4 separate regions of the Homo sapiens genome follow, and regions 1, 2 and 4 are each linked to region 3. The links come from fine-mapping of genetic effects on gene expression. A gene starts in region 3. Each other region holds a variant in brackets. All regions are shown on one strand. Distances are from middle to middle. Region 1 overlaps LOC101929174 (a long non-coding RNA gene). Region 2 overlaps LOC101929174 (a long non-coding RNA gene). Region 3 holds the start of CTSC (cathepsin C). Region 4 overlaps CTSC (cathepsin C).

Region 1 (8,111 bases), 47 kb before region 3:
ATATCTTTGTCATGTTTAATATGTTTCCTAGATGTTGAAACTCTTTGATAATGAAGTGCATCTTTCTGTTATGTTTAATATGTTTTCTAGATGTTAAAACTGATAATGAAGTGCATACTTTCTCTCTTTTTTTTTTTTTTTGAGATGGAGTCTCTCACTGTCACCCAATCTGCCTCCCAGGTTCAAGCAATTCTCTGCCTCAGCCTCCTGAGTAGCTGGCATTACAGGTGCCCGCCACACCACGCCCGGCTAATTTTTGTATTTTTGGTAGAGACAGGGTTTCCCCATCTTGGCCAGGCTGGTCTTGAACTCCTGACCTCATGATCCATCCGCCTTGGCCTCCCAAAGTGCTGAGATTATTAGGCAGGAGCCACTGCACCTGGCCAGGTGCATACTTTCATCATTTTAAAATAATGAACTTTTTTCTCAAAGTGATGACAAGCTGGTTCTAATAGTATTATAATGCATCTGTACTGGCAAAGTGGTAAGTGGTCAATCTATCCAAATGTTATTTGCAAAGGTAATACAAATCTAGTATGCTTCTTATATGAGAAGTGTGAGAGATGAGCCAATATAAATAAACTAATAGACCATCATTTTATGAGTTTGAAAATGTGTAAATCATTCCAAGCTAGAGGAAATCAGAGAAAGCTTCATGGATGAGTAACATTTGTTCTGTAAGGTAGATATATTTTCAACCAATGGAACAATATAAGAAAGATATAGGGATAGAGTAAGACGTCTTTTGTTGTTAGCAAATTCTCATTGGAACACACAGTTAATGGAAGCGTAGATATTTACATATGAATTAGGGTCTGAGCTGTAACGTTAAGTCAAGAAGCTTAGATTTTGTGCAAATGATAATATAAGAGCATATTTAAATAACTGAGTGACAGACTTAAATCTGAAACTTAGGGGAATTAAAATTATTCTTGCAAGAGATTTGGGGAGAGGAGAAAAACTGCGGGATTGGATAAAATTGTCAAATGCAGACTACCTACTAAAATCTACTTTTTAAATACTGTTCACTCATTCAATAAACTTATATTGAGGATCTCTTATGTTCCAGGCAAGTTGTAGGTTAATTCCTTATTATCAATTTGTTTCATGTCTTTTCCTAGTTTATGGGTATTATTTTAAAAATAAAAATGACTGCCCATATCTTGACTTCTAAATACCATTCTCCATGAAATGAAATGAGCACTCATTGGAGAAATGACTGGCTCATGGGCTGGAGCAGAGAAACTACAAGATGAATCTAGAACATCTTTTAGTAACAGAAAGTACGAAGAGTCTAAATAATGATAGGGCTTGTCAAAGGACACAGGGGCCAGCTCTAAGCAGTTCCCTTGGGCAAACCTAGAAAAACTAGAACACTGCCAGGCCCAGTGGCTCACGCTTGTAATTCCAGCACTTTGGGAGGCTGAGGCGGGTGGACCACCTGAGGTCAAGTGCAAGACCAGCCTGACCAACATGCGTCATGGTGGGCACCTGTAATCCCAGCTACTTGGGAGGCTGAGGCAGGAGAATCGCTTCAACCGGGAAGGCGGAGGTTGCGGTGAGCCGAGATCGCACCGTTGCACTCCAACCTGGGCAACAAGAACGAAACTCCGTCTTAATTAAAAAAAAAAAAAAAAAAAAAAAGAACATTAAAATAATGATAGCAAAGGATTATAGCCCATGAATAAAGAATTCTTAAGTTCACACTGATATAAATAAAATATGTAAATATATAAATTTAAAAAATGGAAAGTTTGTCCTCCCAGTGGATAACGAAATGGATAAGGAAATATAAAATTACAAAATTACAAGTTGTCAACCAGCATAATAATTGATCCAGGCAAAATGTGTCAATACTTGCTAAAGCTAGTGGATAAAATTTGAGAGAATATAGGATATTTACAAATATACAAAGTATTTCCCCATAGCAACATTATGTAAAAAGTGGAAAAAATGTAATTTTCAGTTCGGAAATGTAGCAATCAAGGAATCAAAGTTAACGTCACAAGTAATGTGATTAATAGATGCCATATACCATGCTGATACACACAAACATATGAAACACCCAAATTGAGAGATATCTACAATTAAATGATCTATATTCTTCAAGAAAATTTCAAGATAAGCCAGTTAGGATATAGAAGCCTGAAAAATCACATCACTTTCACCCAAGCAATGAGAAAAAGTAGAAAAAAGTCTACAAATTGTAATTGTATTTGAGCCAATCAGAGAACTGAGATCACAAAGCAATCAAGGAAATGGAATCCTAAGGAGTGATGGGTTCCTGATGAGAGATGGGACACATGAAATATGTTACATTTGGGAGCACACAGAAGGAAGAGATGATCATCATAAAAGCAGTTAGAAGAATACAACTGATATTTTAATGAATTTCTAAAAGCTAGATGTAGATCAGTGTGAATTTAATACCCTGGGAGTCCTAGATACATGGGAAGCCCATTCTTTCTCACTGGTTTGTTTGTTTCACTGCCCCTTGCAGAGCAGGGATACCCCACAGGCAGTGTGCCCAGAGTAGCCCTCACTAGTTTGTTTTTTTTGTTTTTGTTTTTGTTTTTTGTTTTTTGTTTTTTGAGACAGAATTTTGCTCTTGTTGCCCAGACTGGAGTGCAATGGCACAATCTGGGCCCACTGTAACCTCCACCTCCTCGGTTCAAGCAATTCTTCCACCTCAGCCTCCCAAGCAGCTGGGATTAGAGGCATGTGCCACCATGCCAGGCTAATTTTGTATTTTCAGTAGAGACCGACTTTCTCCATGTTGGTCAGGCTGGTCTGGAACTTCTGACCTCAGGTGATCCACCTGCCTCAGCCTCCCAAAGTGCTGGAATTACAGGCATGAGCCACTGCACCTGGCCTCACTAGTTGTTTTCCATGTGCATCCATCACGTGTTCATGAGAAAGGTGGGGACGGGGACAGAGACCTGAAAGAGCTGCATTAGTGACATGGGATGCTGCGCCTGGCTAGGTGTGTGGGTGGAGGAGGAGCACTTGGAGAAGCCCATTTTGTACTCTAGGCCCTGCATGAGTATAAGGTGGGGATTGGCTGCCACTTGGGAATAGAAAGGAATGCTGAGGCTTCTGTGGACAGGGACTAGGACAGGGACTATGTAAGTTTGAGGCTGCAGCAGGAGAGCCAAGAAAATTCTGCTCCCGCCTTACTCTCAGTAACAAACATCACCAGCCTATCACTAAGGGAAGGGCAAGGGCACAGAGAGAAACCACCAATGTGGTTTAGGAGTGCAGGCCTACAGAAAGCCAACGGTGGAACAGGAATTCTAGGAGAAAGCCTCTAGCACTCTGGGCCATGCATTAAGCACAAGATAGTGGTGGTTTGCACTAAAGGAATTTGAAGTCTGTGGTACACAGAAGGAACCTAGCAACCGAAAAGCCCAAAACCAGCTCAGCAACAGACTAGATTTACTCAACCCTTCCCTTCAAATTGCCTGATAGAAGAAAAAACTGAAAACTTCCAGGCATAAATTTTAGTCACCTCGTCTCAGTTTTATTCATCTAGTTTCAATTTCTTCCTTTTACTAACAATGTCTGACATTTATCTAAACATTATGGAACACATAAAGCAAGTAAAAGGACATATGCTCAAGAAAGAAAAGAAATGAAGAGAAGCAGACATGGAGACACCTCAGAGGTTGACAGTCAGACAGGGAGCTTAAAATAACAATGACTAATACGCTGAAGGAATCGGGTAGTGGAAAAGGTGAATCCATGCATGAAAAGATGGGAGATATTCAGAAGGAAGGAGGAAAGTTTAAAAAGAATCAAATGGAAATGCTGAAAATAAAAACACAATATCAGAAATGAAGAATTACTTCAACAGGCTTTTCAGCAGAATAGTCAGAGAAATGGAAAGCAGCAATAACTTGAAGATAATTAAAACACAAAGAGGAAAAAAAGAGCTAAAAGGCAAACAGAAGCATGGAAGAGTTGCGAAACCAGACAAAATCATTTAATATACACATACTTGGAATCTCAGGAGGAGAAGAAAGAATGAAGCAGAAGAAATATTTGAAGAGATAAAGGCCAAGACTTTTTCAAATATAATGAAAGATAATAAACCAGAGTTCCTGAAGCTTCAGAGAAACCTAAGCAGCAGGACAAATTTATTTTAAAGAGATTTCAATTATATATTAAAGATATTTACAAATATTAAATCTGTTCTATACACCCACATTGTAAATTATATTTTAAAGGCAATTATATTTTAAAGACATATAAAAAACTAAAGTCTGTTATATTTACCCACATTATTACTGTGTCCAAATGCCTTTGTGTGTCTATGCATGTGCATGAGTGTGTCTATGCATGTACATGAGTGTGTCTGTGTGTTTTCCTTCAGAAGTTCATCTGATATCATGCTCAGTTTGCCAGATCTTGCTGTAACATCTCTTTTCATGCAAATTGGCTGGCAATAATTTATCTCAGTTTTTGTCGTCTGAGAAGCACATTGCTTTCTTATTTGCAAGATGTTTTCACAGGGCATCATTGTAGGTGGT[G/A]AGTTGCTGTTTCTGTGTTTGCTTTCCATATGTCAAATAAGCAACTTTATTGTCTTCTGTCTGGCCTCGTTTCAGAAGCCAAGTCTGCTATTTCATATCTGCTTCCTGGTAGAAATTGTTTCTTTTCTCTTTGATTGACTTCAAGATTTTCCCTTTACCTTTGTTTTCTTAATCATTTGACCGTGAAGAGCTAGAGTTTTTCTTCATATTTATCCTGAAACTCTGAAATTAGTATATCAGATAACACATCTCATTTATTTTTTGAGGCCAGCATTGTTCTAGCAGCAAAACAAGATACTCTTAAAAAAAGATTAATATTAATAATTTAAAAAAATGAGCAAGTCAAATCAGAAATGTATTTTAAGAAAGGAAAATATATCATGAACAAATAAGGGATTACTATAGAATTCAAGGTTTGGGGCCTGGCGTAGTGGCTCACACCTGTAATCCCAGCACTTTGGGAGGCTGAGGCCAGTGGATCACCTGAGGTCACGAGTTGGAGATCAGCCTGGCCAACATGGTGAAACCCTATCTCTACTAAAAATACAAAAATTAGCCAGGCATGGTGGTGCATCCCTGTAATCCCAGCTACTCAGGAGGCTAAGGCAGGAGAACCAGGAAGCAGAGGTTGCAGTGAGCCCAGATGGCAATACTGCACTCAAGCCAGAATGACAGAGTGAGACTCCAACTCAAAAAAGAAAAAAAAAAAAAATTCAAGTTTTGTTTACTATTTGAAATCAATCAACCAGTAAATTTCTATACTATTACTGGACTGAATAAGAAAAGCCATAAGATTATTTCATTAAATGCAGAAATAACAATTGACAAAATTCAACATACCTTTAAGATAAAAATAAACTAAGTAAAGTAGATACAAGGATATATGGGTTATTTATTTATTCCTGGTGAAATTTGTTACTTCGTTCTTTTAAAGAATTTGTTCACTTAATCTATGTGGTGAAGTTTTTGACATAAAGCTGTTCAAAATATTTTCTTATATTCTGTTAAATTTAGAACAATATATATTTATGCTTCCTCCTGTCCTTTCATTTCTGATATTAGTAAAATGTGCTAACTCCTGCTGTTAGAGATTTACCAAATGTATTGAATTTTGACAAGAAGCAGTTGTTGGTTTCACTAGTTTTTTCTATTGGTTTTCCAATTTAATTTTATTCATTTATTTTCTTGTCTTTATTATTTGTTTCCATTTCTTACTTTGGGTTTAATTTGTTCTTCTTTTGTTAGTTTATTTTAGATAGCATTATTGAGGTATAACTGATATACAATAAAATGTATATATTTAATGTATACAGTTTATGAGTTTTGACATAGCATATGCTCATGAAACCATCATCACAATCAATGTAATGCACATATCCACCATTTCCAAAAGTTTCCTATGTCCCATTGTTTTATTGTTTGGTTGTGGGTTTCCTTTTTGTGATAAAAACACTTAACATAAAATTTGCCCTCAACAATTTTTCAGTGCATAATATAGTATTGTTAACTATAACTATTATTCTATAGTGCAGATCTCTAGAACTAATTCATCTTGCATAACAAAAGCCTTATATCAATTGAACAACAAGTCCACAACTCCCTGTCCCCCTGCTCCTTGGTAACCACTATTCTACTACCTGTTTTTGAGTTTGACTATTTTAGATACCTCATATAAGTGAAATCATGTAGTATTTATCTTTCTGTGACTAGCTTATTTCACTTAGCATAATGTCCTTCAAGGTCATCCATGTTGTGGCAAATGGCAGAATTTCCTTTTTTTTTAAGGCTTAATAATATTCTACTGTATGCAAAAAAAATCACAATTGTTTTCTATCCATTCATCTTTCAATAGGTATTTCAGTTGCTTCCATAATTTAGCCATTGTGAGTGATGTAATAAATACAGGAGTACAAATATCCCTTAGAGATCCTTATTTCAATTCTTTAGAGTATATTCCCAGAAGTAGGATTGCTAAATTATGTGATAGTTTTATTTTCAATTTTTTGAAGAACCTCCCTACTGTGTCCCATAGCAGCTGCATTATTTTACTTTCTCACCAACAGTGTAAAAAGGTTCCAAGTATTATACCTTCTCACCAAAATTCAACTTTTGTTTGTTTGGTGGTATGAGGTGATATCTCACTTCAGTTTGATTTGTATTTCCTTGGTTGTCAGTGATGCTGAGCATCTATTCAGATAACTGCTGACCTTTTATTTGTATGCCTCTATCAGAAAAAGTATCTATTCAGGTTTTTGACCATATTTTAATTAAGTCATACTTTTTTGCTATTGAGTTATAGTAGTTCCTTGTATATTTTATATACTAACTCCTTATACATGGCTTGCAAATATTTTCTCTCATTCTGTAGGTCACCTCTTTACTCTGTTGATTGTTTCCTTTCTTGTGCAGACAACCTTTTGTTTCATATAGTCTCACTTGTCTATTTTTGCTTTTATTTCTTGTGCTTTTGGTGTCATAGCCAGGAATCATTGTCAGGACCAATGTCATGGAGATTTCTCCCTGTGTTTTCTTTCAGGAGTTACACAGTTTCAGATCTTACATTTAAGTCTTTACTCCATTTTTAGTTTATTTCTGTGTACAGTGTAAGATAGAAAGCCTATTTCATTATTTTGCTTGTTGACACCCAGTTTTCCCAACACAATTTGTTAAGAAGACTATTTTTTCTCCATTGTGTATTATTGGTACTCTTTCAAATATCTGTTAACCACATACGTGTCGGTTTAATTCTTGGCTCTATATTCTGTTCAATTGGTCTTATATAACTGTCTGTATGTCAGTACCATAGAGTTTTAATTACTGTAGTTGTGTAATATATTTTGAAATCAGGAAGTATGATAACTCTAGCTTTATTCTTTCTACTCCAGGGTGCTTTGGCTATTCTGGGTCTTTTGTGGTTCCATATGAATTTTAAAATTGTTTTCTCTATTTCTCTAACAAATGCCATTGGGATTTTGATGGCAATAGCATGAAATCTACAGATTGCTTTGGGTAGAATGGGCATTTTAACAATATTAAGTCTTCCAATCCATAAACATGGGATATGTTCCCATTTGTTTGTGCCTTTAATCTCTTTCATTAATACTTTGTTGTTTTCTGTGTGTAAGTCTTTCACTTCCTTGGTTAAGTTTATTCCTAATTGTTTTAGTCTTTTTGATGCTATCATAAATGAGATAGTTTTCCTAATTTTCTTTGTGGATAGTTCATTGTTACTGCCTAAAAATGTTACTGAGTTTTTTAGGTTAATTCTGTATTCTGCAACTTTACTGAATTCATTTATCGGCTTTAACAGTTTTTGGTGGTCTTTATGATTTTCTACATATAAGGTAGTATGATATTCATATTATCTCCATTATTAGTTCATTAGCTATAACTTTAAGTTTCTTAGCAGCTGTTCTGAAGATTATAATAAACATTTATAACAGTACCACAAAGTATTAGAGAAACTATATGAAAATATTCTGCTGTAAATTTCTTTCATTATATGTGAAGTACAAAAACAACATTTAAAGATTAATCATGATAAAGATACATACTATAAACCTTATTGCTACTGTGAAGCAA
Region 2 (8,111 bases), 26 kb before region 3:
ACATTGCAACTACCCTTAGCAACACCATTCCAAATTGAGATTAAATGTAGAGTCATGTATCCTCTCCCTTTCTTATGTTGGTGTAGTCAACATTCTAATGTTCACAATTGTTTATGAAATATTTTGTCTATTTTTCTATAAAATTGTAAAATCTTAAAAGATAGAATACAAGTTTTGCATAATTTGAATCCTGGCTAAGGTCTAGTGAGTGTAAAATAAGAAATTAACATATTTATATAGATTTTTTAATTTCAAGAAGAAAATATGCTTTCAGAATATACAAGCAACACTTCAGTATATAAACCCACCCTTTGGTGGGTTTGTCTTTATGAATAGACAAATACACATGCACAAACTTTTTATTTTTCCCTTTGGAAAATTGATTTACCATACTATGTATACTTTGACTATATAATTATTTTTTCACTCAGACTGTCATGGATAGCTTTTCAAGTCAGTATTGGAAGATCTAACATATACTTTTAAAAATATCTGTACAAAATGGCATAGTATGAAGATATGACAATTTATTTAACTTCTTTTTTATTAATGATTATTTAAGGTATTTAATTGGTTTCGAATTATTAATTCTCACAAATTATGCTGACATTATTATTTGAGTTCTTGAACACTTTCAAGTATTATTGTACTACAGGTTGCCAATGTCAGTACTGCTAAGTCAAAATACGCACGCTTTTTCAATACATTTTTTCAAATTATTTTCTAAAAGGGGTATATAAGTTTATACCACTATAAAAGGTTTATTGAACTGCCTATTTTCTCAAACCAGTGCTGTTCAACACAGAAGCCACTAGCCATATGTAGCTATTTAAATTTAAATTTTAAAAAATTAAAAATTCAATTTTTAGTAACATTGGCAATATTTATTTATTTATTTCCATATAGGATCTTGCCCTGTCACCCAGACTCTGTAGTGATGTGGCGTGATCATGGCTCACTGCAGCCTCAAACTCCTAGGCTCAAGAGATCCTCCCACCTCAGCTTTCAGAGTAGCTGGAGCTACAGGTGCCTGCTGCCACACCTAGCTAATTTTTTTTCTTTTTCTTTTTTTTAGAGATAAGGTCACTGTGTTGCCCAGGCTGGTCTCACACTCCTGACCTTAAGCAGTCCTCCCACCTGGGCCTCCCAAAATGCTAGGATTACAGTTGTGAGCCACCACACTTAGCTGGCAATATTTTAACTGACCAATAGCTAGCTACATGTAGTTTTTGGTCACCATAATTAACAACACAGATACAGAAAGTTCCATCATCACAGAAAGTTCTATTGAACAGTGCTACCTCAAATTATGGTTAACATTGGGTGTCATGAATCTTTATGAATCTTTTACATTTTGGGCAATATAATTTTTTTCTTTTTTTTCTTTTTTTTTTTTTTTTTTTAGAGACAGAGTCTTGCTGTGTTGCTTAGGCTGGCTTCAAACTCCTGAGCTCAAGTGATCCTCCCACCTCAGCCTCTCAAATAACGGGGACTACAGGATCCAACACTGCAGCAGCAATATGATACATTTATCAAGGCCTCATTTTAATTTTCCTTCTTATTCAAACTGTAAGCATTCTTAAAGTGTTTATTGATTATTTCTATTACTTCTCATGTTAAGTGGCTGTTCATATTCTTTCTTCATGTTTCATAGGATTGCTTGACATTTATTATTAATATGCAAGACAAATATTTATCAACTGACTCAATGTATCTATGAGGTAGCAGAGCAAAACACAATTTAAATAACATTACTGTGACATTATTTGACCCATAAAAAGGGTTTGAACATATAATAAGCAATTGCTTGCAAAGAAATGCCTCATAATAAATTATAAATTATGTATCTTTTTATCAAAACAATTTTCCAAATATTGTAGATTGTCAACACTTGATTAATAAATTTGAGATTATTAATTGAAACCAATAAAACTGCTTTTCTTGATAAAGAATTAAATACATCTAATTCATCTTAAATAAGCCCAACTTTATTCCTGGTTTTCCTTATGTAGGAAGGCTTTACTGAATTGAGAGACAGACTGCATTAGGTCCTACCATGTTTGAAAAAGTGCTTTACAATAAAGATGAGATTGTAAAGCCCTCTCCCCCAAAACATAAAAAAGGGTACCTCTGTATGCTGTAGATGTAAAAATGTAGAATAAATCAAAATGTAAATGAGGTTTTTCATGCTTTTAGTTTTGATGATTATAATTTAATGCTAAGAATTTACTAGCAGCTGGCTGGAAGACAGAAATAATAGCAATTTCAATGTTTCTATAGCACGTTATAATTCCCCCAAAATTTTCATGCAAATCACTCTTTGCGCAAAAATAAATGAATGACAATGAAGTTGGGAGAAAGCTTGAAAACGCAGAGTTGGAAGGTTAAAGGTTTAGGTTACAGGAGTCAGAAAAGCTTTTTTTGGAATCTTAGAAGCTTTCTTGGTACTGGCCAAAGCTTTTCTTGGTACTGGCCAAAGTCAATGTACCACGAAAGGGAGGTTTGCTCAGATTGGCCCTGATGGTGCACAACAGAAGCATTGTCACCCAGGATGTCACTTGGCAGCTTGGAAAGTAATGGGGTCTGAAGGCTAGAAATAGACCCTGAGAACTGGGGCACACCCCAAGGAAATCGGGGGAAATGAGAAATGAGTTAATGTCTGAGAGTAATTCCAAATATGGGGATTAGAAAGAATGGACCACATAACCCAAGATGGAAGATATACAGTTTTTTTGACTTGTAAAATAATGATGATGATGATGATGATGATGAATGATGATAGCCACCTATGCTAAATAACTGTATTTAATCTTCACAATGATTTTTTTTTTTGAAAAACCTAATGTTCGCTTTGACAAAACTGGTTCAGAGCTGTAATAAGTTGCCAAAGCCTAATCACAAGCAGATCCATGATTCTAACTCAAATCTTTTAACTTAAAATTTTATGCCCACAACCTCTCCTATCTCTGGGGAAGTGAAATAGCCTGAGGATCTGTCTCTATCTTTAGGCACAACTGAAATGAGTGACAAGACTGTTCTTTAATAAATGAATGTGTATAGGTTGAACGCCAAAATTCCAGACATTGCAGGGAAGCAGTTTTGAACTCTCTTTGGTGGATTGTGTTTGTGTAAGGAACAGAAGCTTCTCTTCAGGGGTGATCTTATCACTACACAATGTCAAAGATAAATGTATTTTCAGCCTCTGCATTAAACTCACCTTGCCACCTCTTTGTCTTTGTGCTCCTCACATCAAGTGCCTCAGCAGCCTGTGATTCTGTGTTTTTATAATCTCTCTGGTTTCAACCAAAATGGAAAAAGTAGTCTTAGGTATATATGAAGGAAGAAGAACAGCATGATCTCACCTAAGAAGGACTGAGGCTATCCAGTAACGAAAATCAAGAAAAAC[C/A]TGCAACAGAGGCCTCAACCCTGTATTGCGGGTGGGGTGGGAGTCTCACAGTGAGATGGCATCACCACTTCATGTTGCCCAATACCCTTGCTAAGAGTGTCTCATAGGAAGAGTCTCTGATATGAACCTAATATTTTATTTTCTTTGAATTCCCTCAGATATAAATTTGAGATAAGGATAGGTATCTGACTGGAGTTGTAGGAAGATTAAATGTGATGATTATGTAAGCATTAATCAAGTTCCTGAGTTGAAGGAGGCACTAATAAGAGGAGACTTTTTGAAGTGATGGTGAGTCATTTCCTCCTTACAAAATCTTTCTGAATTCTCTTTTCTCACTGGTAAAATAAGGATACTAGTACTGTACTGTTACTGTGACAATTAAAAGAGATGCAAATGCAAAGTGTTTGGCTTATAGGAGGTACACAAGAAGCAGAAGGTATTAACATAGCTGTTTCTTCACTAGGGTCTGTCTGTGTGGTAAGAGGATTTGTAGGAAACATCTCTGGGATCCCATCCCTAATTTTCTTCTTAGCATCCTCAACGATTTATGTGTAGACACTAACAACTCACTAGATTACAGATCCATTAAAGGGGAAAGGTGTACATACCCCAAATGCCCAACTATAGGGGAATAATTATATATATTTTGAGACTTCTCTTTGATGGCATATTCAGTGTAATCATTACTAAATTCAGATAATAAAATACTATGTTACACAAAATAATAGTAGGCATAAGTTCTATGTAACAGCAATGTAAACAAATATATGTACACAGATAAAGTCTGTTAACTCTGTAAGAGCAGAGGCATTAGTGTGGGAGTGTGGCTGGGGTTGGGGAGGGTGTTTGCTCTGTGAGACCAGGGACGTGTGTGTGTATAAGAGTGTGCTTGCCTATGCATTGCAGCATTGCAGTTGTCCAGTAGGATGCATGGCACAGATGTATTAGTCAAATAATATATGAAGTGGGGGAAAAGGAACATAGAAAAACAAAACAGTTCTCTTAAACAGAGTTTAAATTTTGCTTTAAAATTTTTCTGTGCTGAATTTACAATATGAAAAGCAGGCAATAAAAATTGTAGCCTCCTAGAATATCAGAGAAAGTTACATTTGGAACACAGAGTTACAAACATGGTACCTTCCCTCCTACCCCACCTCAAAGCAACCATTGTTAAGAGTTTTCTGGTTATCTAAGACTTTTTAAAAATACATATACAAACATAAAATTACACACATTCTCTTACCAGGTAACTTTTGTTGCACATCATGTATTTTGGCCATCCTTCTATGTTTGTATTTAAAGCTCTTATTCTTTTCTTGACAACTCCATAAATATTCCATAGTATGTGTTTTTGTTTTTGTTTTTGCTTTTGTTTTTGTTTTTTGAGATGGAGTCTTGCTCTGTTGCCCAGGCTGTAGTGCAATGGCGCGATCTTGGCTCACTGCAACCTCTGCCTCCTGGGTTCAAGCGATTCTCCTGCCTCAGCTTCCCAAGTAGCTGGGATTACAGGTGTGCGCCACCACGCCTGGCTAATTTTTGTATTCTTAGTAGAGATGGGTTTTTGCCATGCTGGCCAGACTGGTCTTGAACTCCCAACCTCAGGCGATCCACCTGCCTCAGCCTCCTAAAGTGCTGGGATTACAGGCGTGAGCCACCATGTCTGGCCAATAGTATGTGTTTTCCTTAATTTTCTTAACCACTTGCATATTACTCACTATTTATGATTATAAGAATGCTATAATTACTTTCCTTTTTTTTTTTTAATAGAGTTCCGCTCTTCTGGCCCAGACTGGAGTATAATGGCAGGATCTCGGCTCACTGCAACCTCCGCCTCCTGGGTTCAAGCTATTCTCCTGCCTCAGCCTCCTGAGTAGCTGGGATTACAGGTCTGCGCCACCACACCTGGCTAATTTTTGTATTCTTAGTAGAGATGGGTTTTTGCCATGCTGGCCAGACTGGTCTTGAACTCCCAACCTCAGGTGATCCACCCGCCTCAGCCTCCCAAAGTGCTGGGATTACAGGCGTGAGCCACCGTGTCCGGCCAATAGTATGTGTTTTCCTTAATTTTCTTAACCACTTGCATATTACTCACTATTTATGATTATAAGAATGCTATAATTACTTTACTATTTTTTTTTTAATAGAGTTCCGCTCTTGTGGTCCAGGCTGCAGTATAATGGCAGGATCTCGGCTCACTGCAACCTCCGCCTCCTAGGTTCAAGCTATTCTCCTGCCTCAGCCTCCCGAGTAGCTGGGATTACAGTCATGCGTCACCATGCCTGACTAATTTTTGTATTTTTAGTAGAGACGGGGTTTCACCATGTTGGCCAGGCTGGTCTTGAACTCCTGATCTCAGGTGATACACCCGCCTCGGCCTCCCAAAGTGCTGGGATTACAGGCGTGAGCCACTGCGCCCGAACTGTAATTAACCTTTTATCCATGGAATTGTAGAGTCAAAGCATCACATGAACTTAAAATTTTGATCAACATTGACAAATTCCTCTTCAGGAAATGCTATTTCTATTATTGTACCCATCAATAGTACAGCAAAGTGCCTGTTTTCACACGTCTTCATTTAAACTGGATATGGTTAATCTATTACATTTTTATCAATCTTATAGGTAAAATTAATATATATTTTAATATGCATCTTGAAGTATTGATCAGAATTATTTTATTTCATTTAAACGACTAATTTGTATCTCTGGTTCATTTTTCTATTGGGTTTTTTTCTTTTCTTTTTTTTTCGAGAGGGAGTCTCCCTCTGTCCCCCAGGCTGGAGTGCAGTGCCGCGATCTCGGCTCACTGCAAGCTCCGCCTCCCGGGTTCACACCATTCTCCTGCCTCAGCCTCCCGAGTGGCTGGGACTACAGGCGCCCGCCACCACGCCTGGCTAATTTTTTGTATTTTTAGTAGAGACGGGGTTTCACCGTGTTAGCCAGGATGGTCTCGATCTCCTGACCTCGTGATCCGTCCGCCTCCGCCTCCCAAAGTGCTAGGATTACAGGCGTGAGCCACCGCGCCCGGCCGGGTTTTTTCTTTATTAGTAAAGAATACGTACTTGTTCAAAAGGAAGTCTGAAATGCAATCACTAAAGACCCACGTTAAATTTAATTTTTTTTTTTTCCCTGGGAGAAGCAAATCATTTACCGCTAGGGAGAGTAGAAAAACCCTGACTAGGAGCAGAAAGAGTGAGAATTCAAAGTTGACAATTATTGCTCGAGCTGGCTTTGCCCTTCTTCCTTGCTCAAATGCAGAGAAGGCCTTCTGTTCATGAAAACAGGTATCTTAGCCAAAAACCAGAGCTGAACATTAGGGCTCTCAATTTTCCACTGGGGAGGGCGGGTTCTGCCTGTGCTTGAGACACTTCACCTTATAAAACAAAATTAGTTGATCCACTCAACAGGTAATTGCTAGTTAATGAGGTTACAGCAGGATAAAACAGATGTGCTCAGTACCGCTTAATGGTGAGGAGAAAAACAATTCTCCTCCTGGTCTTCAGTAGAGGTTGAAGGATAGGGGCAGGTGGATGAATAGGGGTGAAGGTAAATAGGGATGAATATACAGACTGATGCATTTTGAGAAACTTGTCAGAATGGGGTGAGAAAGAAGATACAGGACTGGTGAACATGCTTTTGGGTTATTGTTTAACAAACATAATGGTAAAACATTAAATTATTCTTTTACTGGGTAATTTTTTGTTACTAATTATTTAGCAAAGTTAATAACTGAAAACCATTCCTACATTGTTTTTTTCTTATTTGGTTAAGTTTTTTTTCAGTAAAACCTCCTTTGATCTCCTCACCCCATTCGAGAGATACTGAATTTGCATTCAATGAGTATATACTTCTGATAGCAGTATTACTCTATTTAGCTATGTTCACTTGTTAGAAAAAAAAAAAAGCAATAGATGCTTTGTGCTTTCCATGTTTGAATAAGCCCATTTCTGTCTATTTCTAAAAATGTCAAATGTTTTTAAATGTTTTATGGCTACCCATTTAAAATACATTTTTAAATGTAAAACTGTGATATCAGGATATCAAAACTAAAAGAATAAACATAGTCAAATTCTCTACTTTTAGGAAAAAGAAAGCATGACTCAAAAGTTTTAAAATACTTCCCCCTGTGAAAACATTCTGTTCCTCCCTTTCACACCCTTCATTTGTACAAGAAAAGATGAAGCAAAGGAGAAAAAGAAATGAAAATTAACATTGAGTTTAGGTGGCATATGTATTCCAACAGGGCATATGAGGGTTTTATCAGTAGCTACAGAAACCACTTCCTCTTTTCAGTGTTAGTTTACTAATCCCTTGAAGCTTGCGTGCACCTTCCACTCCTCACCTTCTGTAGCCACTCACCTCCTCTCACATCCCACATTACACTTCTATGTGCTATGGGATCCATCTAGGCAGTAGTTACTCTTATTTCAAAACAAGGATGTTAAAAATTACTCTACTCATCAACAAGTGAAAGATCATGCCTTGCAGCTTTGTGAGCTGTGCAAGGTGGCTTAGCTTCTTGACTCCGAAGCTTTCCTAAAGTAACAGATATTTGCTTACTATAAATGCTTCTTGAGTTGCTACAGGGGTAATTTGCAAAGAGAAAGCAGAGGCTCAGGATAATGCTAGATTTTTCATGTCTGGGTGGATAAGAATCTTTCCTTTTATGTTTATAAAATTAAAAATTGGGTGCATTCGGTATATGG
Region 3 (8,111 bases):
CCAGATGACACTTTAGACTTTTGAGTTGGTGCTGGAACAAATTCAGTCTTTTGGGACTACTAGGATGGAATGACTGTATTTTGAATTGTGAGAAGGCCATGAATTCTGGGGGTCAGGGACAGAATGCTGTGGTTTGAACATAGGTTGTCCCCCAAAAGTCATGTGTCGAGAGGTGGGACCTTTGAGAAGTGATTGGCAGTGCCCTCATGAATGGATGAATCTATCATGGGTTAATAGATTAATGGATTATGGAATTATCAAGGATTAGTTATCATGAGGGTGGGTCTGTAATAAGCACTAGTTTGGCCATCTCTCATGACCCCCTTTGCCACGTGATACCCTGTACTACCTTGGGATTCTGCAAAGAGTCTCAACCAGCAAGAAGGGCCCCCTTCGATGGGGCCTCTTGACCTTGGACTTACCTGTCTCTAGAACTATAAAAAATAATTTTCTTTGTTTTAAATTACCGAGTCTCAGGTACAGTTCTAGCAACAGAAAACAGACTAAGACAGATGCTGATGTCCCTGGTCCTAGGCTACACTTTGAGAACCACTGCCAAGTAATGCTGCCTCTCTGTAAACCTGCTTTTAATGATGGGAGCCTACTGACAGACCATGTTTTGCACATAAGCTCACTTTTGTTTTATATAATTTTAACATATACTGAATTTTTGGGAATGCAACCTCTTGATAAACCTTCAACAGAAAATTCTACTTTGTTCTCCTGGGAATTTGACCAAGAATTGTCCAACATCAACAACTTTGGTATGGTGTTTGAGTGATTAATTGATAAGGTATTTGAGTTATAACTCATCAGAAATCATTTGTGCTCTCAGAAAAAAGTTCCTATCACATTTACCACGATTCTACAATTTTACATAGAAGTGAAACCACCTTTGCAAAAATTACAACTGTGAAAGAAATCAGACCTAATCGACTCCATCTTGCTTCTAATCTTTAAGCTGTCCTTTTTCATTCCTGGGCATAGGTGGAACAAACTTTGGGAAGTAATTCAGTTCATGGTTTGACTCTGAAACAAAATTGATAATAGCCCTTTCCCAAAAAGACTCCCTTCTTGCCTGGGGACCAGTCTGCCTTCGCAGGACTAACAAATTAGCTACAAGATTAGAAATTACAGTTTAGGGGTCATGTGGCCTCTGGCTCCAAGAGTCTGCACCCTCCCACCCTCCAAGTTGCTTCTGGGGATAACATCTCTATTGTAAAATCTAAGATCAGTGCTTGAGATATTTTACAGACCCTGCACTCCATAGATCAGCTGACACCACTGAGACCAGCAATCTGGCTCAACCATATCTGCCATCCCACCCAGGAACAGAAGATAGCAAGAAAAACTCACTTAGACCCCCTATGATTCCATCTCCAACCTAACCAATCAGCACTCCCCACTTCCCAAGCCCCTACCCACCAAATTATCTTTGAAAACTCTGATCCCTGAATGCTCGGGGAGACTGATTTGAGTGATAATAAAACTCCCGTCTCCCCCACAGCCGGCTCTGTATGAATTACTCTTCCTCCATTGCAATTCCCCTGTCTTGATAAATTGGCTCTGTCTAGGCAGCAGGCCAGGTGAATCCATTGGGTGGTTACAGAAGTGTGAAGAGCAAGTATCTGAGTGCCTCATTATGTTTTCCAACACAGTCATACTTGAACATTTTACATGATGGGATATAACTTATTATACTAGAAATATATTTAAAATATCTGATTTCTTCTTTATATTACATTTGGCATTACATTTCTTTTTATTAAGTGTGTAAGCAGTTTATATATTAATTTCATTTCAGAAAGTAAAGGATTTGGGGTCTGATCAGTTTGAGAATCAATTTTTTGTGTGTGCGTGGAATGGAGAGTTAGTAGTTATTTTTGAGAGAGAACAGTATGGGAATTATTAGATTAGTAGAAATAAACTAAACTGAAAATCAATGTGCCTGAGGTTCATTCTTAAATCTTACTAAGTGGCAATATGACATTCAGCAAGTGATTTAACTCTCTGAATCTCCATTTCCCAATTTTAAAATGAATCCATTAGACTAAGAGGTCCACAAGATCTTTTTCTATTATTCAATCATTGAATAAAGACTGTTTTAAACTTTCTTTACAATTAAGTGTGTTGCTTTGATTACATTCATCAAAGAAATTTCCACCTAAACTGGCTCTTCAATATTGATGACCTAATACAAATTTAATGTTTTAACAATCAGTAACACACCTTCCTAGAGATTCAGGAAGGGAAGCTTAATCTGTCAGGGTATCTTTAAATAAATAGTGTGTTAGCTTAATTATACAATGTCAGCTTTCAATTCTAAGAAGGTATATAAAACCTAAAAGCAAGGTGTTCCCCAACCCCCCGCCACCAACCCCGCCCCAGGCTTTGGAAATTTGTGCCCCCATTGAAGAGTATTTTCACCTCTGAACTTTCAAGGACAACTCCTTTTGCCTCATTGAAACTGGCTTTCAAGCTTGGCAACCAAGATAAGAATATTAAGTACACTTATTTTAACACTCAAGGACACTTTCTGAATAAACCAGAATCTAGGGAGATATAAGTGAATAATTTGGACCTGCTCTCTTTGAATGTTTATAATCTGGTGGAAAAAAAATGGACATATGAATATTGATTTGTGACCAGTGCAAAGGGGGCAAAAATTCATATCCCAAAGAAAACGGGGACACATCAGGTCTGTCTTGTTCATCACTGTGTCCACAGGGCCTGACACCTAGTAGGCTCAGTGGGAGAAAGGAGCCCCAATTACCAACAAAAGCCAGGAAAGAACGGGAGGCTCTTACGGAAAAGGGTGATACTTAAACTGAGCAAGGAGGCACCTGGAAATAGTGCCACCTAATAATTTTTGGCGATCAGACTGACACACTAGAACGGTTCATAAGACCAGCCTTCTCCCATTGGCTAGCTTCCTTCCTCACCCTTCTCACCCTGGGCAAGCCGCTTCCTCTCTCTGGGCCTCTTGCTTTTCCTCTGTAACATAAAAGGGGTTGAGCAATATCATCTCTGAGAGCGCCATGTGTGTGCGTGCCAGAGGGAAAACCCCCACAACGCTAATACATCAAAACTGCAGGTTTGCACAAAAACTGAATTCTGCTGAATGCAAACAGGCAAACAGCATTTACCAGGAAACAAAACAAAATCAAGCACATAAAAAAGTAGGAAGAGTTGGAAAACGGAAGGAAGATAAGTTCTCAAACAGCTGGAATAGTTGATGTTAGCTAGCGAAGTTTTTCAGAGGAAAAAACAAGAAGTTGGTTATGAGGCAAGTGGACCTGAGAAAAAAGACTAAAGGGGAAGAATAGCAAGTAAAACAGAACTCCACTTGCTAGATCTCTCCCTCTGTCGCGCTCTTTCACCTGACCCACTCCCTTATTCCCCCCACACCCTTTCCTTCTCTCCCTACGTTACCGCACAGGAACGAAGTCTGGGTCATGTGCGGACCGCTTGTGGCTCTTAAATCCTCTTTTTGTCACCCTGGCCGTGCAAAATTTTGAAACGTCCCTCGGCAAAAAAAATAAAAATAAAAAAAAAAAATCTGTCCCTGGCCTCTTCCCTAGTTCTGGGTCCAGTTGCAGCCAAGTGAGGGGCAGCGCGCGCTCCCAAGTCCCCGTTTCAGAGACGCGCACGCGCCTGGCGCCCAACCCCCAATCCCCTGCTGCTCAGTGACCCCGCCCACGGGTTTCCGGGCCGGCGTAGCTATTTCAAGGCGCGCGCCTCGTGGTGGACTCACCGCTAGCCCGCAGCGCTCGGCTTCCTGGTAATTCTTCACCTCTTTTCTCAGCTCCCTGCAGCATGGGTGCTGGGCCCTCCTTGCTGCTCGCCGCCCTCCTGCTGCTTCTCTCCGGCGACGGCGCCGTGCGCTGCGACACACCTGCCAACTGCACCTATCTTGACCTGCTGGGCACCTGGGTCTTCCAGGTGGGCTCCAGCGGTTCCCAGCGCGATGTCAACTGCTCGGTTATGGGTAAGCCGCCGGCTCGGCAGTCCTCCGGGTCGTCCTTTCTGCCCTTGAGCCCCTAACGCAGCGCCACGCCAACTACCGCTTCCCCCCAGGCAGACGCTTGTGGGTGGCCAGAGCATCTTGACTGGATTCGGGGACCCTTGGGGACCTTCTTCCCCGCCAGGCTCGCGAAGTTAAAGTTCATCTGCTGAGAACTTCTAACTCCACACTTTCTTGGTTATCTTGGGGACTCAACACTTTGATCAAGAACTTTTTTATTCCTCCCGCTTAATTTTGTTTGCTTTGAGAGAGACTTGGGAACTGCAATCGTTTGGTTCTCCAGTCCGATCTGGTAGCGTTATTTTTAAAATTTATTTTTATTTTTTATTACTATTTTACTAGTGAAGATAGATGAGCTCAGAGACTCTCGAGGATATAGCATGAAGTTTTCTCTTTTTGTTAGATGGTGGGAAAGGGACTTTCTGCCCAGCGATTTTGGTTTGAGCGGGTGTTGATGAGTACTAGAAAACGGCTAGTACCACTCTGCATTGTTTCATGCATTGCAAGGAGGTAAAAATTTTTTAAAAAATTAATAACAAAGAAAACTTAACTCTGAACCTAGTAATTAGAAATGCCCAGAGTCTGCACAATGTTTGGCTCATGGAAGGCTCTCAATAAATACCTAGTGTTTGAACATACTGGAGATATTCCATATGCCTTCAGATAACATGGTTACCCCTAGAACAAAGAACCTAGTGAAGGGGGTGGGGTGGAAAAAAGACAATCACTAGTTAGAAGAGTCACACTGTGGTCTACCCAAACCCTCTTACAGCCTGTGACTTCTGCAGAGTCAGTAAAAAATCAGCTATAATTTTCTTGTCAACAGAACAAAGATTAAGTCATTTGTTACTAAAGAAATACCTTTTTAACTGACTGTATAGCATTTCATAATCCTGAACATTGTAACTTTTTTTTTTTTTTTTTTGAGAATGGAGTCTTGCTCTGTCACCCAGGCTGTAGTTCAGTGGCGGGATCTCGGCTCACTGCAACCTCCGCCTCCCGGGTTTAAGCGATTCTCCTGCCTCAGTCTCCCGAGTAGCTAGGATTACGGGCACATGCCACCACGCCCGGCTAATATTTTGTATTTTTAGTAGAGACGGGTTTCACTGTGTTAGCCAGGATGGTCTCCATCTCCTGACCTCGTGATCCGCCCGCCTCGGCCTCCCAAAGTACTGGGATTACAGGCGGGAGTCACCACGCCTGGCCTTTTTTTTTTTTTTTTTTTTAAATTTGAGTTTGAAGGTTGGGGCAGAAAGAGATCAGGATTTGCACTGCCCTGTCACATGCAATCTCCCATGTCAGAGCATTACTCTCAAACATGGAAAAACTTTAAAATACACAACTCTCCAGATGGACACAGCTGAATCATTTTCAGGAAGGCTCTGCCTATAAAATTACCTTTGGCCTTAATTCAGTAATTAAAGGCACCCACAGGTCTGAGCCCTCATCTATGAAGGTTAAACGTATCATTCCTATCAGCACTAATTGGTTTTATAGGATACAGACCTCTAGTTTGCTGAATAAACTTTGGAAGGATTCAGATTATGAGGTTCTAAACTGTAGAGCCTTTGAGGAGAAAGGTACCCCATTTCTTCTCCGAATAGATCATTTTGTGTCTTCTCCTGGGCTTAGCACATTGTCTTCCTTAGGATCTGATAGTCTGTTTATTTATCTTTTTGTTGTCATACCTTTTATTCTTGCATTTCCCACTTTTGACTAGCATTTTGCCTTTTCTCCGTTTCTGGAAGCCTGTAATTTTCAACATTCCCCATTTCTCCTTTTGTTCAGTGGAAAAATTTCTTCAGTGTTGGGATGCTCTGGAAAGGTACTGTAGTTTTGGGGGTCTCCCTGCCTGCTGGGCTGCATAGCATATCTCTCTTTTTTGAGACAAGGTCTCACTGTGTTGCCCAGGTTGGAATGCAGTTGTGCAATCATAGCTCACTGCAGCCTCCAACTCCTGGGCTCAAGCAATCCTTCCACCTCAGCTTCAGCCGCTCAAATAGCTGGGACTACAGGCAATGCACCACCATAACCAGCGAATTTTTAAAAATTATTTTTGTAGAGACAGGGTCTCACTATGTTGCCCAAACTAGTCTTGAAGTTCTGACCTCAGCCCCGCAAAGTGCTAGGATTACAGGCGTGAGCCACTGCTTCTGCTTGCATTATCTCAAATTTTTAGAGCCTAACTTCACAGTCTTGCCTCGGAGCAGGAACTGTTTGAGGCAACAAGATGGAGCCTCTGGTTTCTTCACTAGGCAGACTGTGCTCAAACTGGGTAGCATGAAAGGAAAGCAGCACAATTAAAATTGAAATTGGGGGATTCTTTCCCCTATTGAAATCCAAATAATTTTCCTTTATTGTGCTTTTTTTTTTTTTCTTTAGGACCACAAGAAAAAAAAGTAGTGGTGTACCTTCAGAAGCTGGATACAGCATATGATGACCTTGGCAATTCTGGCCATTTCACCATCATTTACAACCAAGGCTTTGAGATTGTGTTGAATGACTACAAGTGGTTTGCCTTTTTTAAGGTTAGTTTTGTTGGAAGTTGGATTTACATTTTCAATGATTTGATATCTGAAACCTCTTCTGATTAGTAGACCCTCAGAATTTTAATTTTAGATTAAGAAGATGACCGGAATTGACACCACTCTTCCCAAGAGTAGTAGTAGTTGGTATAATTTTGCCACTTTATTTAAAATTATGATTTTAGTAGGTTTACAAAATACCAGTGCTACATTTGAATATGTATAAATTATGTTTAAAATTTACATTTTGGTAAGTATGACTAAATTCTTAATTTATTTTCCTTATTACTACCACTTTATTTCTAAATGTTGCCATAGTCATTTGGCTTTGTTCTAAATCTGTAGGAAAGATAGAGAGATTACACATTTTGTTTTCTTGCAGTTACTATGCTGTCCTTCCTATCACTACCTGTTGGCTGAGGTAGTGATAGGCCTAAATGATTCATTATCTTAAATGTACTAAATATGTTGAGTAATTTTTTCTTCTAAACTAACAGAAAGAGAGAACCTAGGAGTTACTCCCTTAGGCTGGTTAAAGTGAAAGGTAGCCAAGTCAACCCAGCTTGTTTCCTTCTCTCATTAGGAAAGAACTATTGTTCATTCTCATAACACACTTTTTCCAATTGCAAACATACTCAGGGTTAAAATAGTTTAGCACAAATTGCAGCCCATTTCATTTGTTCTTCACAAGCTGGAACTTTTCTTGTAAGCTAAATATTAAATGGTTCAAGTAAATTGGATACATAAGCCTGAAACTAGGCGTTTCTCATTATACATAGAGTATAAATTAAGACAGACTTTTTCATGGTGAAAGGTTTACAGCCTTTAAAACATCTGGGAAGAAGTGGGAAAGTAGGGAATAACTCTGTTAAATATGATAAAAGACAAAGCACCAACAAAGGCCTAGTTCTAAACTTGTTATAATTTCTCATGGGAGTTGTGGTTTGTCACAAGGTTATGGCGGTCCAAGCAAGTTTACAATATTTTTTAGAATAATAACTCCCAGAAATATTTTTAAAATAAGGACCTTTCTTTAATATGGAAAAAAAAAAGATGAAATAGAGAGGAAGAGGTTGCCTTTCCTCAACTGGATTTGCTGGTGTGATATGCAGCTGGTGGAAACCAGTTTGTCCATGCTAGCTGTTGATGGCCACCAGTCCACTGAATTAGTGGAAACCCATGCTTAACCAGTTGTTAACTATTTTTAGTATCATTTCCAGATGCTACGCATTTTTTTTGTAAAAAACATACTTACAATAGTATCTATATAAATTTTTAAAATTGTAATGTATATGTGGTATATTTAACCTGAAAATAATCTTTGGTGTATACGTTGATGAGCCTAGGCCTTTGCAGACCTCTTACAGTTACTCTGTCACAGCCCTTCAAAGGTTCTTTGACTTCAGATTAAGAATCAATTGCATGTGGAATGCATGTGCAAAGGAAGAGATATTCAAGGCAATTGTTACCATGTACCATAAACCTTGTACATAATTTTTTGTCATTTTCTTTTCCTCTGTCTCTATCCCTTCTTCTTTGACACACAATAGACACCTAGTCAA
Region 4 (8,111 bases), 33 kb after region 3:
CTGACTGCCTCCATTAGCTTCACAAAAGTGGTTGGGTTTCAGGGCAAGGCCCATTGTCATTTAAACTGTAGCCGAAATGACTTCCAAAGTTAGCTTGGCCCAATAGCCCAGGAATATTTAAGTGGAAGGCAAGATGGGGGATGGGTTAGCTTAGCTCTCTTTCACTCTCATAGTTTTCTCACTGGTATAATTTTTGCAAAGGCGGTTTCATGCCTGCCATCTCTTTCGTCGCTACCTCTCCCAGTTCCCATTCTTAGCTGTTTTATGAAATGCTTCTAGTTTCATCCTCTTATACCAAGTTCTGGGAGACTGATTTGAGTAATAATAAAACTCCAGTTTCCCATACAGCCGGCTCTGCGTGAATTAAACTCATTTTCTATTGCAATTTCCCTGTCTTGATAATCAGTTCTGTGTAGGCCGTGAGGAAGGAGAACCCGTTGGGTGATTACGAGACTGTGTTACTGCCCACTACCTAATGGATACATTTAGCCTGGTATCCAAACCCATCTAATTATGACCATAACTATATTTATCACCTTGCTCTGCTTTCAAACGATATGACACACAATGAATGAAAACTTTCATTTTTCATCTTCATTTGTGCTGTTCCCTTTGCCTCAAATAGCCCTCAACTTGCCTACAGTAACTGTAAAATTTGCCACCTAAAAAAAAATCTCAAAATCCTCTCTATGCTTTGATGTCCAGCAAAAAAAAAAAAAAAAAAAAAAAAGTTATCAGTATAGCTCTATTACTCTCAACCAGAGGTGGCATTTTTCATCTTTACCCATAAGCCCCATGGTATATTTCTTAGTTTGGGAAATTATATCATAATACTTTGAATCTGTCTAGTCAGAAATTTAGATAATTTAAAAAAAAATTATTTTTCTGAAAGTATAGCTGGATCTAGCTTAGGATCTACATCTATCTAATATAGTTCCTTAACATTTGTTAAATGGCCACGGATAAGTCCTGTAATGCCATACTTTGCTTTAGGATCATGTGACTAAGGGGTAAGGAATTGGAAAGCAATGGGGAGCTAGCAGAATTTGAAAAATTATATAGGTAGGTTATTTTTCCTTAATACATTGAAATAGCCTCAAATTCTCAGAGAATACAATGTTTAATCCTCTAATATCTGTAGAGTTCATGGCTCAAATTTGTATTATTTGAATAAACTACTAATAGATTAATAATTACTCAACTAAAACACTTTGAAATGTGAGAGTTCCCTTATCTCCCTCGCAGGCATATGACAGAGGTGTGGCTTCTCACACCTTTGGTTGCCCTTGCCCTACCACCCAAACCCCTAGGGGGAGCATGCAGAGGGGCAGGTGCAGAGGCCATGGGGGGTGCTTTTGGGCTCTGGCCCCACAGCAGTGTCTAGGAGTGGATGTTGGAGACTCCTGAAGCCCAAGTGGGCATGTGTTACAGTGTGCTCTTTCAGCTTAGCCGTCTGCAGATGGCTTGTGTTAATCAGGTCATTAGACCCCATGCCTTATTGCAAGGGCAGGGGTCCAATGTGACAGCCTAAGTTCTTGCTCAGTGTACCAGAAGAATTGGATCACACGTGGGCTGGAAGGATGAGCACAAGGTTTTATTGAGTGGTGGAGGTGGCTCTCCGCGAGACGACTCTCAGCCAGAGAAGGAGGATGGAGGGGAAAGGTGTTCTTCCCCTGGAGTCCACTTGTTCCTGTTCTCCTCTGGGTTCAAATACCTCTTCCCTCCTTTTCTGCTGTGCTGTCCCACCACTCTCCACAGCTCTGTGCCGCTCTGTTCCTCTGCTCCTCTGGATGTTCAGCTCCTTGTATCTGTGCCTGCTAAGATTTTGGGTTTATATGGGGGAAGGATGGGGGGCATGGCGGGCCAAAAGGCACCTTTTTTGGTGTGAAAACAGAAATGCCTGTCTTCTCTTAGGGCCTTAGGTCTTCAGGCTTGAGGGTGGGGCCTTTGCTGAGGGACCACCCTCTTCTACCCAGTATTTCCCTGTCTCCTGTCCATATCAACATTACTAACTTTTTCATCTGCAGACTAATAATGCTAAGGTGTGGCATTTTTCAACTGTGAGACTATGTGAAGGTTTTTCCTGTCCAACTGATGGCATCCTCCCATAATTCTACCCCTTTCTTAAAAGAATCTTTTGCAGTATTTCTCCAAGTTTATTCTAGAGAATTTCTTGTCTGTGAAATGCTCTAGTTAATCAAAATTGGAAAACGGAGCATATCATATCCCCTTCTCAAATTCACCAAAGTGAAGTCCTAATGTGTCTTAATGTATCTGCATGAGACAGGAAGCTGAGATCTATTCAACAACAAAAATCCAAACAAGCATCAAGAGGAGGAGTGTTAGCACTTGAGCCTAGGGAGACTGTGGCTCCTGCCTGAAAGATGGGAGCCTCAGTCACAGCTGCTTTACCAAGTGTCATATGCTATGTTTCTGAGGACTCCTGCTAAAGCTCCCTTCTCCCTCCAGCCAACCACTTTTGTTTTAGACAAGGGCTGGGTTTATGAAGGACTGTTTTCATGACTAAAGCTTTATAGAAGGTTTAAGATAAGGAGATGGAATTGAGTGAAGTAGGAAATATGAAAGCAGATATTATAATCTGGCTTCCTGATTTTTCACTAGCATTTTTGTTTATAAATTAGTTCTGTTCTAAGAATCCAATGACGTAATAGAAACTCTCAAAGATTCTTAACTTGAGATATAGGGAGTCTTTGAAACTGCTGAAATTACAGACAGCATTTATTGTTTATGAGCATTTCTGAATCTAGAGCTTTCACTAGATTTGTAAAGAATGTGGGCCAAAAGATTAAGAGCCAATCCTGTATCTTGTACTCAAAATGTTTGTAATTCTCACCTTTTTATCCCCCAGACTCCTCTTGCTCTCTCTTCATTTTCACAGTGTTACTGGAAAGGGGTCCTGATCCAGACCCCAAGAGAGGGCTCTTGGATCTTGTGCAAGAAAGAATTTAGGGCGAGTCCTCAATGCAAAGTGAAAGCAAGTTTATTAAGAAAGTAAAGGAATAAAAGAATGGCTACTCCATAGACAGAGCAGCCCTGAGGGCAGCTGGTTGTCCATTTTTATGGTTATTTCTTGATTGTATGCTAAACAAGGGATGGATTATTCATGCCTCCCCTTTTTAGACCATAGAGGGTAACTTCCTGACATTGTCATGGCATTCTTTTTTTTTTTTGACAGAGTCTCACTGTGTTGTCCAGGCTGGAGTGCGGTAAAGCAATCTTGGCTCACTGCAACCTCTGCCTCCTGGGTTTAAATGATTCTCCTGCCTCAGCCTCCCAAGTAGCTGGGATTACAGGCATGACCCACCATGCCCAGCCAATTTTTGTATTTTTAGTTGAAACAGGGTTTTGCCATGTTGGCCAGGCTGGTCTTGAACTCCTGACTTCAGGTGATCTGCCTACCTTGGCCTCCCAAAGTGCTGCAATTACAGATGTGAGCCACCAAACCTGGCCTGTCATGGCATTCTTAAACTGTCATGGTGCTGGTGGGAGTGTAGCAGTGAGGAAGACCAGAGGTCACTCTCATCGCCATCTTGGTTTTGGTGGGTTTTAGCTGGCTTCTTTACTGCAGCCTGTCTGTTCTATCAGCAAGGTCTTTATGACCTGAATCTTGTGCTGACCTCCTATCTCATTCTATGACTTAGAATGCCTTAACTGTCTGGGAATGCAGCCCAGTAGGTCTCAGCCTCATCTTACCCAGCTCCTATTCAAGATGGAGTTGCTCTGGGTCAAACACCTTTGACAACATCATTAAGCCTCAGTTCTCACACTGTTTTTGTTTTGTTTGTGTGTGCAATGATGGGCAAATCTCTGCCTTATAGGATGGTAGAAAAAAGGAACTTAATATTGTAATGACTGTTTTGTGCCAGATAATTGCTTTAAACTGTATCAGCATCTTATTTAGTCCTGTTAATGATATGAATGTTATCTTCATAACAGCTGCCATTTTATTAAGGACTTATCAGAGAAAAACACTGTTCTAAGCACTTGTTACCCATTATTACATTGAATTTTCATAACAACCCTTTGAGGTAAGCATGATTATACCCACTTTAATAGAAGTGAACTGTAGTTTTGTAATGTTAGGTTCCTTGCCAAATGTTACACAGATAGTAAGTGATAAAATCATATGCCCTGAAATTACATTATGCTGCCAAACTTAAATTTCTTTTTTATCCTTTATATTAGTATATTCTTAGGTTTAAACAAGACAACTAGTTAACACATACTAGATTTTGTCCACAGTTCCTGGCTCATAACTCCCATAGCCCTTGTCACTATCTTTTAACGTTGGGGCACATTAGGCCTCAGAAGTAGGCCTCAGAAAACAGAGTCTCTCTCTCTCTCTCTCTCTGATCTTCTTCCGCCCTCCTCTCACCTGCCCAGGGCAGCACTCTAATCTTCTCCTGCCTTTCTGATCTTGGGTCATAAGACCTTCATTTCCAAAGATGTCCTGTGTCATACCCTAAAGGAAGGAACACTGAACAGAGAGAGGCTCAGAAGAATCTGGACAGGCCTTGCTGTGTTTACATCATTCCCTTTATGTCCAGTCACATCTCTACATGGTTGTCAGTTGTGCCTATTTGATGAAGTCCCC[A/G]TATAAGGCTCACAAGGACAGGGTGCAGAGAGCTTCCAGATAGCTGAACAAGTGGAAGTTCCTGGAGGGTGGCGTGTTCAGGGAGGGCATGGAAGCTGTGTGCCCCTTCCCCCATACCTTGCCCTACTCATTTCTTCATCTGTTTCATTTGTAGTATCTTTTATAATAAACCACTAAACATTAGTTAGTATTTCTCTGAGTTCTGTGAGTCACTCTAGCAAATTAATTGAACCCAAGGAGGGTGTCATAGGATCCCCACATTATAGCTGGTTGGCCAGAAGCACAGGTAAACAACCTAGGGCTTTCAATTGGCATGAGAAGTAGGGGGCAGTTTTGTGGGACGGAGCCCTCAGCCTGTGAGATCTGATGCCATCTCTAAGTACACAGTGTCAAAACTGGATTGGAGGACACCCAGCTAGTATTCACTGTGAAATTGGTTGCTTGCTTGATTTGTGGGGAAAAACCCACATGCATTTGATCACAGAAGTCTTTTGTGTTGACAGTTGATAGTGTTCAGTGAGAGAATTAAAAAAAAATTGAGTTTCTTCTTCAACATACTCTCTCAATGTGAAACCACAGAAACTATTTCCATTCAAAGATGGAAATGGTTTGTTTGCATCTTAGTTTTTATTTATACATCTTAGAAGAAATGTCCAAGCTTTGTTTTTTCTCTCACCCTATATATAAAATTACCTATGAGGCACAGATTTTTATGATCCTTGATTATATAGACTTTGTCCAAATTGTGTGTTTTATAGCATTACTGTAACTTGTTATAGTAATCTTTGTGTATATTATGTCTCTTAACATTGTCTTCCATATTGTTAATGACCATCTCATATTTATCTCTGTATCATGTATATCTTCAACCAATGTGACTGGCTTAGGAGAAAAAATTAGTGAACAATTAACTAGTGTTTGTGTAATCTATACAATTGTCAAGGTTACAATTGCTATTTTTGAAGAAATCGTTGTTGTTTTTCTCTTTGTTTCATCTCAGTTCCATTTTGTCATGTATTCTTTTTTTTTTTTTTTTTTTTTTTTTTGAGGCGGAGTCTTGCTCTGTCACCCGGGCTGGAGTGCAGTGGTGCAATCTCGGCTCACTGCAAGCTCCACCTCCTGGGTTCATGCCATTCTCCTGCCTCAGCCTCCCGAGTAGCTGGGACTACAGGCACCCGCCACCACGCCCAGCTAATTTTTTTTTGTATTTTTAGTAGGGACGGGGTTTCACTGTGTTAGCCAGGATGGTCTCAATCTCCTGACCTCGTGATCCGCCCGCCTCGGCCTCCCAATGCTGGGATTACAGGCGTGAGCCACCGCGCCTGGCCCCTTGTCATGTATTCTTAACCTGTGTTATATCTAAGAGAAGCTGTGAGAGACGGGACCATTTGTGGATAGGTGCAGAGGGCATGAAGTAGCCCAGAAAGAATCTTTGCCATTGACTAAATTTTAGCCTAGTAAAAAACATCTGGTAACCACTGAAAAACTAGAACAGTGTGATATGACAATGCCCAGTTGAATAAGAAATTCAAATAGTTTATAGTAACAAAAAATAATTTTTACCACATTGTGACTAGTGCCCTAAAAACAAATTTGAAGGAGCAGAGAGAGAGAGGAAGTGAGTTTTCGCTGGGGGCTGGTGAGTGGAGGCTACTTTATGAGCAGTTTTGAAAATTACAAGTTAGGGAAAAACTCTTAGGGGAGTTTTAAGTGGTGAGCAACAGGCACTTGAGGTTACAGGAGCAGCAGCATAAAGATATAGAACAGAGAGGCCATTTGGCAGTCTTGGGGAAACTCCAAGAAGTCGAATGTGTCTAAAGCTGTGGTTCTCTCTCTGTGTGTGTGTGTGTGTGTGTGTGTGCGCGCGTGTGTTTGTGTGTGTGTGCATGTGTATGTATGTGTGAAATCGCTAATACAGAGAAGCTGTTAGAACAATTTTCTCACTTCCCAAAAATGTCCGTTCATTCATGGGCCTAGGCAACTCTCCTTTGTGTGTCTTACAGCCCAACACTGTCATATAAGGTGTGGTTCTATAATGAAACAGTTTTATCTGTTGTTTACGGAGCTAGTCAGCCTGTGTTATGCTTGTTACTGGTTGAGGGTGTCCAGGTTCTTGGCTTCTTGAACAAAGAATTGGACAAAACTCACAAATGAGGCAAGGAAAGAATGAAGCAACAAAAGCGGAGATTTATTGAAAATGAAAGCACACTCCACAGGATGGGAGTGGGCCTAAGTAAATGATTCAAGGCCCTGGTTACAGAATTTTCTGGGGTTTCAATACCGTCTAGAGGTTTCCCATTGGTTACCTGGTGTATGCCTTATGTAAATGAAGAGGGTGGAGTTAAGTTACAAAGTCATTTACTCAGTATAGGCCTTGTGTTAATGGAGAGGGTGTTACTCCTGGGGGTTGTGGCCCATGTAAACGGAGAGGATGAAGTGAAGTGACAAAGCCCTTCGCATTCCTGCCATTGCTGAAGTGTTTCCACTTTATTTAGTTCTAGGAAGTCAGTGTGAATTGGCCTTATGTTCCCTGCCTCCAGAACCTGTTCTCCTGCCTCACATAGACCCTTTTTTCCCTTTGCCAACTTCACTTCTTTTACAGCCACCTCACTACCAATGTGTCTGTCTCCTAAGTCAAACATCAGTGATTCCTCTGTTTTCTCTAAACCCTTCTTATGTCTTCTACTTCTCATCTCTTTCTTGGTCAAAAATCTTTCAAAAATGAGTAAGAATGCAGCTATTCAGGCAAACTAAAAATAACATCACAGTGATATACAAAACCAGTGTCATTTCACAAAGGAAAATTATCAATACTAGATCCTGAAAAAGAAACAGCGAATGAAAGCCATTTACACAACTCCATTGTGTAATTGACACATTGAATCACTCATAAAACAGGTGCTCTGGGTCTGAATCTAGATCCTAGCTAGTCTGGTAGCTGAAATCATAGAATTATAGTAGAGTTTAGGAAATCATCCTCAAAGGAAAGATTATATGTTGATATCAAATGTATATTTCCTTTCTAGGCCCAAACCTGCACCACTGACTGCTGAAATACAGCAAAAGATTTTGCATTTGCCAACATCTTGGGACTGGAGAAATGTTCATGGTATCAATTTTGTCAGTCCTGTTCGAAACCAAGGTAAAAAAATAAGCCTAAGTTTTTTGTTAATTTGTTTGGAACTATTTATTGAACAGTTGCTCTGTGTGATGGATTTCGGGGATACCTAGATGGAATGGGCATGATCCCCTTTTTACAGAAATAGAAAATAGGTGGCCTATGAATTATTCTTTCCTTTTATATCCATGACAAACTTTAGTAAAAAATTTTCTTTTCTACTGAGCTTAGCATTTATTCAGTACTCTTCTCAATATATTTTCCAGGTAGCTAGTGACAATCAGAGTGATATGTAAGACAAACTCATTTGTCCTCCTAGTAGGAAAGATTCTAGTAGAAGCAAAGAATTGTGTACCATTCTGCAAGTGGTTTGTTGGA

What was found. PIP is the estimated chance that this variant, and not a neighbour inherited with it, causes the effect.
Region 1: its variant is fine-mapped to the expression of CTSC in whole blood (INTERVAL, PIP 0.95).
Region 2: its variant is fine-mapped to the expression of CTSC in blood mononuclear cells (TOPMed, PIP 0.94).
Region 4: its variant is fine-mapped to the expression of CTSC in whole blood (INTERVAL, PIP above 0.99).

What each region holds. Positions count from the first base shown.
Region 1 is chr11:88,380,054-88,388,164 of GRCh38, reverse strand. All of the region lies in intron 2 of LOC101929174 (a long non-coding RNA gene), which reads right to left. Among named protein-coding and RNA genes, the nearest start is that of CTSC, 46 kb to the right of the region's middle. The variant G/A (reference allele first, on the strand shown) is at 4,530.
Region 2 is chr11:88,359,341-88,367,451 of GRCh38, reverse strand. All of the region lies in intron 1 of LOC101929174 (a long non-coding RNA gene), which reads right to left. Among named protein-coding and RNA genes, the nearest start is that of CTSC, 26 kb to the right of the region's middle. The variant C/A (reference allele first, on the strand shown) is at 3,407.
Region 3 is chr11:88,333,378-88,341,488 of GRCh38, reverse strand. It overlaps CTSC (cathepsin C), which reads left to right and starts at 3,753. Exons shown (of 7, transcript NM_001814.6): 1 at 3,753-3,988; 2 at 6,407-6,552. The coding sequence starts at 3,817. It overlaps LOC101929174 (a long non-coding RNA gene), which reads right to left and starts at 3,605. Exons shown (of 5, transcript NR_188511.1): 1 at 3,433-3,605. RefSeq lists an enhancer at 3,758-4,037.
Region 4 is chr11:88,300,176-88,308,286 of GRCh38, reverse strand. CTSC (cathepsin C) reads left to right here. Exons shown (of 7, transcript NM_001814.6): 5 at 7,642-7,757. Among named protein-coding and RNA genes, the nearest start is that of CTSC, 34 kb to the left of the region's middle. RefSeq lists enhancers at 1-806, 4,824-4,883. The variant A/G (reference allele first, on the strand shown) is at 4,616.